2 separate regions of the Homo sapiens genome follow, and region 2 is linked to region 1. The links come from fine-mapping of genetic effects on gene expression. Tissue or cell type: whole blood. Region 1 holds a variant in brackets; the other region holds the start of a gene. All regions are shown on one strand. Distances are from middle to middle.

Region 1 (5,150 bases):
GCCGATGAATAGAATGTGTATGCTGCAGTCGTTGGGTAGAATATTCTGTAAATATTTGTTAATTCCATTTGTTCTACAGTATAGTTTAATTCCATTGTTTCTTTGTTGATTTTCTGTCTTGATGACCTGTCTAGTGCTGTCAGTGGAGTACTGAAGCCCCCACTATTATTGTGTTGCTGTCTATCTTATTTGTTAGTGTTTTGTAAATTTGGGAGCTCCAGTGTTAGGTGCATATATATTTAGGATTGTGATATTTTCCTGTTGGACTAATCTTTTTATCATTATATAATGTCATATATATCACTATATATATATATATCATTATATAATGTCCCTCTTTGTCTTTTTAAACTGTTGCTGCTTTAAAGTCTGTTTTGTCTGCTATAAGAATAGCTACTCCTGCTCATTTCCAACCATTTGCATGGAATTTTTTCCCACACCTTTACCTTAAGTTTATGTGATTCCTCATGGGTTAGGTGAGTCTCTTGAAGACAGTAGATACTTGGTTGGTGAATTCTTATCCATTCTGCCATTCTGTATCTTTTAAGTGGAACATTCAGGCCATTTGCATTCAATGTTAGTATTGAGATTCGAGGTATTATTCTATCCATTGTGCTAATTGTTGCTTGAATATCTTGGTTTATTTTCCCATTGTGTTATTGTTTTATAAGCCCAGTGAGATTTATCCTTTAAGGAGATTCTATTTTGGTGTATTTTGAGGTTTTAAGATTTAGAACTCCTTTTAGCAGTTCTTGTAGTGCTGGCTTGGCAGTGGTGAATTCTCTCATCATTTGTTTGTCTGAAAAAGACTTTATTTTTCCTTCATTTATGAAGCTTAGTTTTGCTGGATACAAAATTCTTGCTGGATAATTATTTTGTTTAAGGAGGCTAAAGATAGGACCCCAGTGCCTTCTAGCTTGTAGGGTTTCTGCTGAGAAATCTGCTTTTAATGTGATAGGTTTTCCCTATAGGTTACCTGATGCTTTTGCCTCACAGCTCTTAAGATTCTTTCCTTCTTCTTGACTTTATATAACCTGTTAACTATGTGCCTAGGTGATGACTTTTTTTGTAATGAATTTCCTGGGTGTTGGATATCTAGTTCTCTAGCAAGGCCAGGGAAGCTTTGTATTTGGATATGTAGTTTTCTAGCAAGGCCAAAGATGTTTTCCTTGATTATTCCCTCAAATATGTTTTCCAATCTTTGATATTTTTCTTCTTCCTCTGAAACAGGAAGGTTTGATAATTTAACATAATTGCAAACTTCTTGGAGGCTTTGTTCATTAAAAAAAGTTTTTTCTTTGTCTTTGTCAGATTGGGTTAATTTGAAAGCCTTGTCTTCAAGCTCTGACGTTCTTTCTTCTACTTGTTCAATTCTATTGCTGAGACTTCCCCATGCACTTTATATTTCTCTAAGTGTGTCCTTAATTTGCAGGAATTGTGATTTTTATTTATGCTATCTATTTCTCTGGATAGTTGTTATCCATATCCTGCATTCTTAACAATTTCTTTAAGATGGTTTTCACCTTTCTCTGGTGCCTCCTTGAGTAGCTTAATAATTAACCTTTTAAATTCTTTTTCTGGCAATTCAGAGATTTTGTCTTGGTTTGGATTCATTGCTGGTAAGCAAGTGTGAACCTTTGAGGGTGTTATAGAACTTTGTTTTGTCATATTACCAGAATTGTTTTTCTGGTTCCTTCTCATTGGGGTAGGCTATGTCAGAGGAAAGATCTGGGACTCAGGGGCTGCTGTTCAGATTCTTTTGTCCCACAGGATGATCCTTGATATGGTGCTCTTCCCCTTCCCCTAAGGATGGGGCTTCCTGAGAGCTGGACTGCAGTGATTGTTACTTCTCTTCTTGGTCTAACCACCCATTGGAGCTACTGGGCTCCAGGCTGGTACTGGGGAGTATCTGCAAAGAGTCCTGTGATGTGATCCATCTTCAGGTCTCTCATCCATGGATACCAGCTCCTGTTCTGGT[G/A]GAGGTAGCAGGGGAGTGAAGTGGACTCTGTGAAAGTCCTTGGTTGTAGTTTTGTTTAGCATGCTCGTTATCTCAAATGCTGGTTATGCTAACAGTGAAGTTGTCCCGTGTCCAGACTCAGGACCTCTGGTTAGCCAGGATGTTATAGGTGGTGGAATTAGCTATTATTTTCTTCCTTGGAACAGGGTTTGTTTTGTTATGAGTTTTTGTAAATGCTCGAGTTGGTTGGCCTCCAGCCAGAAGGTGGCACTTTCAAGAGGGCATCAGTTGTGGTAGTATAGGGGTGATACAAGCTTGCCCTAAGGTCACCTGGATAAGTATTCAAGTCTCTCAGGTGATGGATGTGGCTGTAGAGCTCCCACGGGTTTATGTCTTTTGTCTTTGGCTACTGTGGCAGGTGGAGAAAAACCATCAGGTGGGGGCAGGGTTAGGCATGTCTGAGCTCAGACTCTCCTCAGACGAGGCTTGCTATGGTCACTGTGGGGGATGAGGGGTGGTTCTCAGGCCAATGGAGTTTGGTTCCAAGGGGGATTATGGCTGCCTATGCTGCTTTGTACAGGTTGCCAGGGAAGTAAGAAAAAGCCAGCAGTGACAGGCCTCACCCAGCTTCCCAACAGCCAGCAAGGCCAGTCTCACTCCCATGCTCCCCCAAAAGCAAACAGAGCCAAGTTTATATCCAGGCCCCTGGTGCTCAGGACTGAGATCTTGAACCAGGCTACATGCCTCCCTGCTAAGAAAGCAAGCAGGGCTTTCAGGCCTTGTCCCTCCTCCAGCAAACTCCAGCAGACCTGCAGCAGAGAGGCCTGTTAGAAGGGAAACTAACAATCAGAAAGGAATAGTATCAACATCAACAAAAAGGATATCCACTCAGAGACCCCATCCAAAGGTCACTGACTTCAAAGATGAAAGGTAGATAAATCCTTGAAGATGGGGAGAAACCAGTGCAAAAAGGCTGAAAATTCCAAAAACCAGAAAGCCTCTTCTGCTACAAAGGATAACAACTCCTCACCAGCAAGGGAACAAAACTGGATGGAGAATGAGTTTGACAAATTGACAGAAGTAGGCTTCAGAACATGCGTAATAACAAACTCCTCCAAGCAAAAGGAGCATGTTCTAACCCAATGCAAGGAAGCTAAGAACCTCGATAAAAGGTTAGACAAGTTGCTAATTAGAATAACCAGTTTAGAGAAGAACATAAATGACCTGATGGAGCTGAAAAACACAGCATGAGAACTTCGTGAAGCATACACAAGTATCAATAGACGAAACGATCAAGCGAAAGAAAGAATATCAGACATTGAAGATCAACTCAATGAAATAAAGTGAGAAAATATGATTAGAGAAAAAAGAGTGAAAAGAAATGAACAAAGCCCCAAAGAAGTATGGGACTAGGTGAAAAGACCAAATCTATGTTTGATTGGTGTACCTGAAAGTGATGGGGACAAAGGAACCAAGTTAGAAAACACTCTTCAGGATATTATCCAGGAGAATTTCCCCAGCCTAGCAAGGCAGGCCAACATTCAAATTCAGGAAATACAGAGAACATCACAAAGATATTCCTCGAGAAGAGCAACCCCAAGACATATAATCATCATATTCACCAAGGTTGAAATGAAGGAAAAAATATTAAGGGCAGCCAGAGAGAAAGGTCGGGTTACCCACAAAAGGAAGCACATCAGAATAACAGGGGATCTCTTGGCAGAAATCCTACAAGCCAGAAGAGAGTGGGGGCCAATATTCAAGATTCTTAAAGAAAAGAATTTTCAACCCAGAATTTTATATCCAGCCAAACTAAGCTTCATAAGCGAAGAAGAAATAAAATCCTTTACAGACAAGGAAATGCTGGGAGATTTTTGTCACCAGCAGGACTGCCCTACAAGAGCTCCTGAGGGAAGCACTAAACATGGAAAGGAACAACCAATACCAGCCACTGCGAAAAGATACCAAATTGTAAAGACCATCAACACTAGGAAGAAATCACATCAACTAATGGACAAAATAACCAGCTAGCATCACAATGGCCAGATCAAATTCACACATAACAATATTAACCTTAAATGTAAATGGGCTAAATGCCCCAATTAAAAGACACAGACTGGCAAATTAGATAAAGAGTCAAGATCCATCAGTGTGCTGTATTCAGGAGACCCATCTCATGTGCAAAGACACACATAGGCTCAAAATAAAGGGAGGGAGGAATATTTACCAAGCAAATGCAAAGCAAAAAAAAAAAAAAGAAAAACAGCAGGGGTTGCAATCCTAGTCTCTGATAAAACAGACTTTAAACCAACAAAGATCAAATGAGACAGACAAGGGCATTAAATAATGGTAAAGGGATCAATGTAACAAGAAGAGCTTACTATCCTAAATATATATGCACCCAATACAGGATCACCCAGATTCACAGAGCAAGTTCTTAGAGACCTACAAAGAGACTTAGACTCCCACACAATAACAGTGGGAGACTTTAACACCCCACTGTCCATATTAGACAGATCAACGAGACAGAAAATTAACGAGGATATCCAGGACGTGAACTCAGCTCTGGACCAAGCAGACCTAATAGACATCTACAGAACTCTCCACCCCGAATCAACAGAATATACATTCTTCTCAGCACCACATCATTTATTCTAAAATTGACCACATAATTGGAAGTAAAACACTCCTCAGCAAATGCAAAAAAAAAAAAAAAGGAAATCATAACAAACGTCTCTCCGACCACAGTGGAATCAAATTAGAACTCAGGATTAAGAAACTCACTCAAAACTGCACAAATACATGGAAACTGAACAATCTGCTCCTGAATGACTACTGGGTAAATAAGAAAATGACAGCAGAAATCAAGAAGTTCTTTGAAACCACCGAGAAAAAAGACACAATGTACCAGAATCTCTGGGACACATTTAAAATAGTGTGTAGAGGGAAATTAATAGCACTAAATGCCCACAAGAGAAAGCAGGAAAGATCTAAAATTGACAACCTAACATCACAATTAAAAGAACTAGAGAAGCAAGAGCAGACAAATTCAAAAGCTAGCAAAAGAAAAGAAATACCTAAGATCAGAGCAAAACTGAAGGAGATAGAGACACAAAAAAACCTTCAAAAAATCAATGAATCCAGGAGCTGCTTTTTGAAAAGATCAACAAAATAGATTAGTCAGACTAGTAAA
Region 2 (5,150 bases), 250 kb after region 1:
CTTTCTCCCTCTATCTTCTATACTCCCCACTGTCTAAGAAGTTCTGAGAAAGACAGACTGTAACATAAGGCATGAGACAGACTAACTGGGATCTAAATCCTAGCTCAGTCACTGTGTATCCTTAGGCAATTTAATCTGTCATGCTTCATATTTAAAATGGAAATAATACTGTAATTCACTGAATCTAAGACCACTGATTATTAGACACATGATTATTTTATGTCACAGTAAGAAAAAAATGTTACCAATTAAACTTTGACATGCAATCAAAGTTTTAAAGACTCACCCTGATTACAAAGATGTTAAAAATAGTGGAGAGGAGTGAAATATGGTAATTGTATCTACCTCATAGAATGGTTATAAAGACAAAATGAGTTAAAACATGTAAAACCTTTAGTAGAACAGTCCCTGACATATAAGTGCTCAACGTTAGCACACAGTATTCGCCAAGCTTTACTTTCTGTAGTGGGTAATTCTTTCCTTTACTTTCGGTAGTTTGTAAAGCAAGAGATACTGAATATGTATATCCAAACTGCATTCACTCTACCTTGCCTCAGCACACTCATACTCACACATTCAAAATCCAAATACACAGCCTAATCTCCTTCATCTAATGTAAGATCCTTTCTTATTCTAAAGCAAGATTTTCCAAGCCATGGCCTGGGCTGCTGGAGGCCCAGGATGGCTTTGAATGCAGCCCAAATTCGTAAACCTTCTTTAAATGATACGAGATTTTTTGCAATTTTTTTTAAGCTCATCAGCTATCATGAGTGTTAATATTATGTGTGGCCCAAAGACAGTTCTTCTTCTTCCAATGGGGCCCACGGAAGCCAAAAGATTGGCCACCTCTGTCCTAAAGAGTTATAATGTGAGTCAAATGTATGATTATCTTTGTGTGAAGGGCATTGCACCTGACTCAGTTTGATACTGCCAAAGCATGAGGATATTCCTGGTAAGATGTTTATTTTTCCCAGTCTTCAGCTCAAATTCTTGACATTCAGTCTGGGCAAGTACACTCACCAGGTGTATGCTTCACACTCAAGGCACTGAAGTACCTATGGAAACTGATGACTTACTTCTGGAGAAGGCTTTATAAACAATCCCAGATTGCTACACTGACTCATAAGTCCCCATCTGACATTCTATTCTCCCTGCTGATGACAGATCTTGATAAGATGAAATCTATAATCTAAAAATAATAGTAGTCCAAGGTTATCAAAAGATAAAAAGCACAAAAAAATAAAAGGAAGGGGACTAGATGTTTATTTATCTTAGGACAATAGTACTGTAGTTATAAAATTTCTCTCTACTACCATTACATAAATTGAATTAAATTACTGTTCTTTTATACCAAATTGGCATAAAATGATTAATAGTAGTTAAAAGAAATATTTCCTCAAAACCACCACAAATCAATGCATCAACATTGCTAGTTTTACATGATTGTAGATAAACCAAGGCCTTGCAAGGTCGTATGGCTGTGATCTGGAGAGAGCTGGAGAGAGGCCAAAAGGTTATAAAGAATCTAATTTTTAAAATCAATTTAGTATACTAAAAGCTGTTCACCCAGTATGGCTCTAGAGTACAATATTTTTAATTCTCAAGAGTTGGAAGAAATAAAGCAGCAAAACTGACCAAAATTGAAAGATCTCCTGGGATGAGAATACAGCGCAGACTCCAACAACCCGTTTATGGATATTTTGCCAAAGTAGGTGTAAATTTAAACGGGCACAGCGCTAATTTGCACCTGTCCATTACACATTACATCTTGACTGATTAATCTCACAGTCACCAAGAGCTGGCCAGATAATGGCTTTGATAGTATTAAGAGCCAAAAATAAAAGATCCTATCATTATTAATTTCCCTCTGCCTGTCAGCCTCTCTCCCAGTGACATTTTTACAAAGGAAAAAAAACAATCAATCAGCAAGGAGAAGTAAATATCCCTTGATTACTGAAAGATAATTCATTCTCAAATCAGGTCATATTTCCTTTTCCCCTTTACACCAATTTCAAAACCCATGGCCAAGGCCTGCTTTCAAAGTGCTTACAACTTGCTTTCAACTGCCCACCTTTACGCCTGTCAACCCACAACTTCCTTCCAAAAATCTGCTCTGGTGCCTTAACTTTGTAAAAAGTGTGCACTCCGAAGCCTTTAAACGTTTCTGCATCACAAAAGCTGGGTGGCACCTCTTCCATTTGGCCACAGGCATCTTTTGCCAGCTGTCGCCCTTTTGGCAAAGGAAAATGGGGGCGGCCCTTGCCGCTGTCCAACAGCCCAGACTGGGTGTTACAGGGCAGAGGCAAAATTAAACAAAGGCTAAGGAGCCGGACCCTTAAGAGGCAGGACCTGCGACCCCACTGCTGGCAGCGGTGCCCCTTGCAGGGCGGCCTTGGGCTTCATGCGCCCCGGGCTGCCCCCAAGGACCGCCTGTCCGACTTCCTGCACGCGAGCCCCTGATCTGGAGCGTCTCCCCGAACCCAGACCGCTCAGGAGCCGGACCTCAGCAGCACTTTTGGCCAGGTCCAGGGTTGGCGCCCCCGACCCCAGCGCGGGCGGCTCGGGGCGCCCAGAACCACCAGCCATTGTCCTTTGGTGGCCCCCACTGGGGTCCACTCAGTTGGCCTCGGGCGCCGGCCGCTGCTGGGGACACCTGGGGGAACCGCCTCCCCCGCGGGCCGGGCCGGCGGAAGGCCGCGTGGGCGTGTGTTGGGCGATGGGGGCGGCCTCCAGCCGCCGCGTCGCCGCCTCCCCCACGGCCTGCCCGGGCAGAGGGGAGGGCCCGCTCACCTCGGTAGCGGCGGGAGGCGAGGTGGCACGCTGCGAGCAGCAGCACGGCCACCAGCGCCAGCACCTTGGCGCTCCTCACGCTGAAGTAGTGGTTGATCTCCCGCTTGCCCAGGTTGTAGGCCAGAGCCGCCATCTTGGTTCCTCCATGACAACAGTGCGCGGCGGAGCGGGAAAGGGGCGCCGCACAGGGGCAGCACTGGGGCTGCCGCCGCTGCAGCCAGGCGAGGAGCGGCCGCCAGCTCCCCAGGCCGCCACCTGCGCCTCCCGCCGGGGAACCTGACCCCGCGGCCGCGGCGCCCCCGACCTCCGCCTGCCCCTCCTCGGCCGCGGCCGACTCGGCGGCCTCCCCCCAGCCCCGCCGCCGCTGCTCCGCCGTGCCGGTTCCCCAGGCGCCCTGGACGCCTGTCTCCTCCCCTTCCTCCTCCTCTTTAGCCTCCTGCCTTAATAGCGGCTGCGCCTGCGAGGGGGGTCCGGATGCCCAGTGCTCCGGGGTCACCGGGTCACGCGCCCCGGCGGGCGGCGGCGGCTGCGGCAGAGCCATGGGGGTGTGGGGAGAGAGTACTAGGGGTACCCGCCTGGCCCGGACGCGAGCCTTAGGGCTGTCTCCTAGTTTACTGGCCGCTACCTGAGCCCAGGTTGGGGCAATAGAACTACAGTTCCGGGAGAAAAGTACACATCGTCCCATTCCTTCCTTCCCCAACACTCCCCTTTCTCAGCCTTCTACTGCCAGAACCCGCCCAGCGGGATGCGAAGGACACCCTAAGGTCGTTTATTGTCTGGCTATCCGTGGCCTGGCTGGTCAGTCTGGCTGCCCCTGGGTGCTGGCCAGATTGGATTGATGGATCCAGTTGATGGTGCTGGCCGATGGATTGCTGGCATCCAACCCAGGAGTGAAACCAGTCTTAACACTTAACTCACCGCTCTGGCCAGTTTCTCTTAAACCGTTTTTTTAATGTCCTCAGTTTGCCCAGTTCTGGTGGGCGAAAGTACACCAAAGTTCCGAATGGAAGGTACAGAAGGAGCCTAACTTAGTGTAGGTGTTGATGAGAAAAGAGTCTGACTCTCACTTGTATTTACGCAAGTTTGGCTAGGTCGATGTGCCAAAAAAATTCGTTTTTTTTGAGAGGGAGTCTCACCCTGTCGCCCAAGCTCTAGTGCAGTGGCGTGATCTTCGCTCACTGCAGCCTCCCCCTCCTGGGTTCAAATGGTTGTCCTGCCTGAGCCTGCCGAGTAGCAGAGATTGCAGGCGCCCGCCACCACACCCGTTTAATTTTTGTATTTTAATAGAGACGGGGGTTTCACCATTTTGGTCAGGCTGGTCTCGAACTCCTGACCTCAAATGATCTGCCCATCTCGGCCTCCCAAAGTGCTGGGATTACAGGCATGAGCCACCAAGCCTAGCCAAAAAAAATTTTTCTTAATGTGCTTATGACAATCATCCCCGCTACTAACGTTGGTTAATGTTTTGTGATTCTCAATAAAGCCAGCACTCCATTTCCTTAATAAAGCATTGTTATCCCTACTCTCCTCTCGCTCCCACCCCACCTTTTTTAAATGGTTTTTCTTGTTGCCTTCCAGATGGGAATGGTTATTTACATTGCTTGCCATTCTACTTGCCTTGCCTTGTTTAGAGTGAGTCATTGTTTAGTTGGGGTGTTGTCAAGTATTCTTTACAACTTTCCCATTTAGCCATTCCTGAACTTGTGCTTATAGGCCCCTCTTAAAATTATAGAATATTAGATATGAAGGGACTGTAGAGATCTTGTCTACTCATTCCCATTCTCTTCATCCAAGGACTCTTTATTATGTTTTCATCCATGGACTTTATATCTTGAAAGATTTTGTCACTTAAATGAAATCACATACATCACTGTCATGGATGTAATGCTAATAAGCAATAAAGTTAAATAAGTGTACAAACACTTAGGCACTGTTCCCTGCAAATAGTCTTTTAATTTTGGCTGTCATTCTGATCAGAGGTTGATCACATGTTGTAAGAATTGGGTATTGTAAAAACCAGATAACTCTGCCAACAATATATGGTCTGCCAATCACATCCTAGACATTTCTATGATGTCATTACCAGCAAATTAGAATTTCTGATCAGCATGCAATAACCAGTGTTAACCCAAAGGGTTGAGTTAATGCCTGCAAAAAGTAAAGAAACTTGACATTCTATTAATTGCAATTTCCAGAAGGCTTTCTTAAATACTGTAAATAGCTTGTGAACCTCCTTTTTCTTCTCTCAAGTTTAAGGCCAATCTCTCTACCTCTGCTCTGAATCTTTTCTTATCCTCCTTTCTTGAGGGTGTTGATTCCTCCATCAGTTATCCCCATGCAAATCATTCTTTTTCTGTGTC

The links. PIP is the estimated chance that this variant, and not a neighbour inherited with it, causes the effect.
Region 2: it holds the start of CASD1, and the variant in region 1 is fine-mapped to the expression of CASD1 in whole blood (TOPMed, PIP above 0.99).

The regions. Positions count from the first base shown.
Region 1 is chr7:94,754,516-94,759,665 of GRCh38, reverse strand. No RefSeq gene overlaps it. Among named protein-coding and RNA genes, the nearest start is that of PEG10, 100 kb to the right of the region's middle. The variant G/A (reference allele first, on the strand shown) is at 1,979.
Region 2 is chr7:94,507,858-94,513,007 of GRCh38, reverse strand. CASD1 (CAS1 domain sialic acid O acetyltransferase 1) reads right to left here and starts at 3,199. Exons shown (of 18, transcript NM_022900.5): 1 at 2,791-3,199. The coding sequence starts at 2,923. RefSeq lists silencers at 2,536-2,895, 2,996-3,145, 3,186-3,405 and enhancers at 1,939-2,925, 2,926-3,914.